Linked DNA regions of Homo sapiens: region 2 is linked to region 1. The links come from fine-mapping of genetic effects on gene expression. A gene starts in region 1. The other region holds a variant in brackets. All regions are shown on one strand. Distances are from middle to middle.

Region 1 (2,500 bases):
GTGTGGGGTTACAATGGACTTCCTATATTTGTGTGTAATGCTTCAATTTTTATAACAAGCATGTAATATTTTTTACATTCTTAGAATTGGGGAAGCTATACAGAGCAGGTATTTTATATTTACCATTTAAAATTATTAATATCTTTAAGCTTGTTAAGGGGGAAAAAAAAGCTTCAATCTGAAACTTTAATTCACCTGGCAAGGTTTAGGCAGTTGTTTGTCCATCTAAAGTATATATTTACATAGACTGCGGGGTGGAGGAAGTAGAACAAAAAAGAGGCAAATTTTAACCTAGAGTACTCAAAGTGAACAGTAAATAGTTCAAGTATTCTTGATAACAATAAGCCACGTGGCACATGTAACAACTACTTTAAAAGTTACTCTAACTTTTACAAAGTTCACATAAAAAGCTATCTCAAAAATCCCAGGAGCCTAAATTCAGTCCATGAACTTTATTTGTTGTGCCATGTTAATTTATGGAGTCTAAATTTCAAGGGCAGAATTTCTTCTCCAATACCTGTAGATTCAAAGACAAAGACAAGGGATCCCACCACTTAGTGTAAGTTTCTCAGTATCTTCTTTCCACTCGACAATGACAAAGTTTTATCAAATGGACCCTTGGGAGTTTGACTTCTCCTCACTATGAATGGTTTGCTTATTGCATGCTAATGTAGAAAAGTTCTCCCACAACTGATCTGCTTAGGGACAGTGTCCCTGGTGCCCTGGGTCAGCCTTTGTAAACAGAACAGGCTTTTCTGTATGCCTTTGAATATGGTCTTTCCGTTTTCTCAAAATTGTAGTGTACTCTGCACATGGTGGGTAGAAACACCCTTCCAGATTTTCTTCCTTGGCCCAAGATCATCTAGGTCTTATGCAATTCACAGGGGAAAGGAGTAGTATGCAGGACATGCGTAAATTCTCCTTACCATGTGGTTCTTTCACATTGCTGTTCCTTTAAGAGAACTCTTAGGCAATTCGGCATATGAAAATGCAGCCTATTGTCAAATTTGTGAATTATAAAGCGTTCCGACCCCACAACATTGTATATTTTGTTTGCTTGTTTCTGTCCGCCCCAACATTTAGAAGTCTGGTACTTAGTAGGGACTGGGCTGGGTAGAAAAAGAATGCGGTCTTAATTCCCACAACCCTGCCTCCTTGAAGTAGGTGAATCCTAAGCCTTTAGAAACGAACCCCCAGAAACCCTAAAACTTAAACCCTCAGAAACCTTGAGGGTCCTAAATAACCTTGTTTGTGAAACTTCGCAGGAAGCAGCCGGTCGTGGAGTCGCAGAGGCTCCAGCGGTCTGGGCAACCTGGAGGGCAGTGGCTCGGCGGGGCGCGCGGGGTTCTAGCGAGACAGGTGCGCGGCCGTGCGCGCCTGCGTGCCGGTCCCTCCTGAGCCCCGCGGCGGGCGCGACCCCGGACGGCGGACTGCAGGCGCTCCACGCCGGGTTTTCCGCCGCTCTCCTAGCACAGACAGTCCCACAGCAGCCCCACAGACACACACGCTCGCGCCCGCGCCTCCTCGTCTGCACTTCAAAGCGAGTGGCGCCCGGCTGCGCCGGGGGGATGGCACTGCGAGGTGGCGGGGCCCCCGGGGCAGAGCTCGAGGGGAAGGACGCGGCGGGTGGCACGGACAGGGACAGGCTTTTGCAATTCGGAATCTTTTCGTAAGGGGGTTGAGGAGGAGCCAGGCAGCGCCGAGGGCCGAGAGGGGCGTGAGGGGGAGTGTTCCCGGAAAGCTGCGGCGTTGGAGCCGCGCTGCGCCTGCCGCCCGAGGAGTTGAGAAAGAAAACAGGAAACGTGGTGGCCGCGCACCCGGCCGCGGCTGATTCATTCACTTCAAGTGCCGTGCAGAAGGCTCGGCAGGCGGGGCGGGCGTGGGGCCGCGGCTCCGGGTTGGGGACCGAGGAGATCCGGCTGTGGACCAGACGCTCCTCTGCGGGGCGGGCACCCAAGCGCGCTCGCCACCCCCTCGCCATCCGCTAGAGCCGGGCTCCTGGACTGGGACTCGGGCCCGCCGCACAGTTGAAAAGTCGCATAGTGGTTTTTCCGCTCGCGTCGCTGTGTGAAAGTTGGCTCGCCGCTCTTTGCACGCCCTCCCTGGAGGCCGACCCGAGACGCCAAGCTGGAGAGACCGTGCCTCCCCGAGGCCGGCCGCCCCGCGAGCACAGCCTCCGCCCCCGTTGCACTGCCGGGCTGGGCAATATGAAGGAGCAGCCCTCATGTGCCGGCACCGGGCATCCGAGCATGGCGGGGTATGGCAGGATGGCCCCCTTTGAACTCGCTAGCGGACCCGTGAAGCGCTTGAGAACTGAGTCCCCCTTTCCCTGTCTCTTCGCAGAGGAGGCCTACCAGAAACTGGCCAGCGAGACCCTGGAGGAGCTGGACTGGTGTCTGGACCAGCTAGAGACCCTACAGACCAGGCACTCCGTCAGTGAGATGGCCTCCAACAAGGTAAGCCCCGGTTCTGCTGTCACTGGTGCCCCCAGGCTGCTGAT
Region 2 (2,500 bases), 75 kb before region 1:
CCTGGAAATCATTCCTTCTTGTTTACTCTGATTATATAATGGGGAATTGTATGCTTTATACAATTTTAATTTCTTGAATATATGTGCTCAAAAAACATTATAATGTGGTTCAGTACTATATATGCTGAAAACAGGTTGCTAATGAATTTGGACAAAGATTCCCATTTTATTTCCTGTACGTTTACACATTTTTTGGCTGTATATTATATTTACTATATATATTTATTAGGACTACAGCAAACGCTAATTCATCGACTGAGATAAGAAATGTGTTTTCCATTAATAATTATAAATCTGCCAGAAGATTGTGAGATTTACATTGTTGGGGATCTAAACAACCAAAATCATTGCAAAGTTATTTTAAAACTATTATTAATTATTTATGTAATCATAGATTATGGCTTGCAGAAGACTGAAGAAATTGTTCAACAAACCATGTAGGTTTTGTGGAAGAGCAGTAGACTTTGATAAGTAAGCTCAGAGTGGTCCATTAACCTTTTCTCTATATGTACATTATGTGTTGATAAGCATGATATCTATTATACCTCAATTATTAATAACAATATACATCCTAACTATTAAGAACTTAGCCTGCAACCCTAATAGTGTCCCCTTTCTTCTAGAACATAGATCAGCATAAGGAAGGAAGCAAAGGAGGTCTCTAAGCACTCAAAATAGATGTTCACAATGTTCACTCACTGAAGATAATGTAGGTCATTAGCCAGAGAAATGTATGTTCATATTTTAGTGATGATTCATACAAGCTTGGTCATGTGGTTCTAAACCTTCTATAATTGGATGAAGCAAATTAAGAAAGGCTGGGTAGGAGATTTCAGGGAAAGTCACAACTGATATTAGCCAAATGTCAGCTGATGGCCTGAAAACAACAACAGAAAAAGAAAATCTACAAAATCATTTGAAAACCACAGACATAGCTATTTGGGGCCTTTTTGAAAGGGGCAATAAGCTCAAC[C/T]CATCTTTGGAAACACTGAGCGCATCCTGTCTGGACAACTGAGTATAATTTTTGGTGTTCAAACTGATGACCCCAAATCATCAAAAAATACAAAATTATATTTTGCTCAATCTGTATTGCTCTTCTATATTATGGTAAGATTTCTGTTTAGTGCACTTAAAAGTAAGACTACCCCCAAATTTAATCCCCATCCCCTTCAATGTCTCCTCCTGGACATTGCTCCATCTATCGCCCCTTCTCCCTCTTTCTTTGACCTACTCTTTGATGGCTGCATCTCCTTCAAAACTGGTTGAAGTTCCTAAGGAAAAAATTCCCTTCCTCTTTGATCCTGTATCTTCCATCAGTTATTACCACATATCTCTATTGATTTTCGCACCCAAACTTCTAGAAAGTTTACACTTATCATTTTCTTTTTCTTTTCCCCCCACTTATTCCTCTACCCCCTTGAAGTTAGCTTGCAGCCCCACCACTCTGTTGCAACTACTGCTGTAGTTCCTCTGCTCTCCCAATTGCCAAACCAAGTAGATATTTTTCAGTTCATTTCTCATCAAGTTTCTCTAAGTCAATTGCCAGTGTATCCCTCTCAAAAACCTTTCCATCTTTGCATGAGGTCGTACACTCTTTCTTTTCCTTTCCCCCCACCCTTCCTTTGACCTGGGGTTCCCAGGATCCCATTCTCCATTCCTGCTTTCCTCACTCTGTGTGTCTTCCAAGACTGACTTGTGCATTCTTATTTTAATTACCACCTGTTTGCTGAAAGCCCCTAAATTTATATAGAAATCCATCTTAACCTCTTCTGCAAAGCTTGGAACCCCAATATTTATTGGAAATTCCCAACTGAGTATCCCATGGGTTTATAAAATTCTTCATATCCAAAACCAAATTTAGCTTTTCCTCTAAATTTGTGCCTCCTTATATATCTCAGTTGGTGACACTACCCAGCTATCATGTTCAGAAAATAAAATAAAAATACGTCATAAAAGCATCAAAACTCTATAAATTTATCCATGTAAGGATTGCCACCATTAATATATACTTTAAATCCTTCCAAATGTTTGTATACTTGTATATATTTAAAGGGATCATATTTGGTGACTTACTGCTATAACACATTTTTCCCATTTAACAAAAAAAAAATTTTTCTGCATCAAAGTATACTTCAAAATTATTTTTGTAGTTGCTCATGTTCTAGCAGTTATTTAACTAATAATGTTAAACATTTACATCATCTTTGCAACTTTATTTCTCTTGTTGCTTTTTTCTTAAGAAATGACTATTGAAAATGACCCCCAAAAGGGTATATAATATCAGTGATAAAAATTAGCTCTTGGAAAGGGAGGAGAGAATTTTCTAGTGTATGGTAGTAGCAGTAACAGTGGCCTAGTTACACTCAATATCTCAATATGTAATGCCATTTATGGACAGCTTACTATGTGCCACACTCTTTAAGGACTTTGCATAATCCTCACCACAAATCTGTGAGATTGGATACATTATTGTTCTTATTTCATAGTTGTGGAAACTGAG

Evidence for each region.
Region 2: its variant is fine-mapped to the expression of PDE4D-AS1 in whole blood (TOPMed, PIP above 0.99).

The regions. Positions count from the first base shown.
Region 1 is chr5:59,038,815-59,041,314 of GRCh38, reverse strand. PDE4D-AS1 (PDE4D antisense RNA 1) reads right to left here and starts at 1,549. Exons shown (of 2, transcript NR_198970.1): 1 at 1,245-1,549. PDE4D (phosphodiesterase 4D) reads left to right here. Exons shown (of 15, transcript NM_001104631.2): 6 at 2,344-2,456. RefSeq lists a silencer at 2,111-2,180.
Region 2 is chr5:59,113,782-59,116,281 of GRCh38, reverse strand. All of the region lies in intron 5 of PDE4D (phosphodiesterase 4D), which reads left to right. Among named protein-coding and RNA genes, the nearest start is that of PDE4D-AS1, 75 kb to the right of the region's middle. The variant C/T (reference allele first, on the strand shown) is at 974.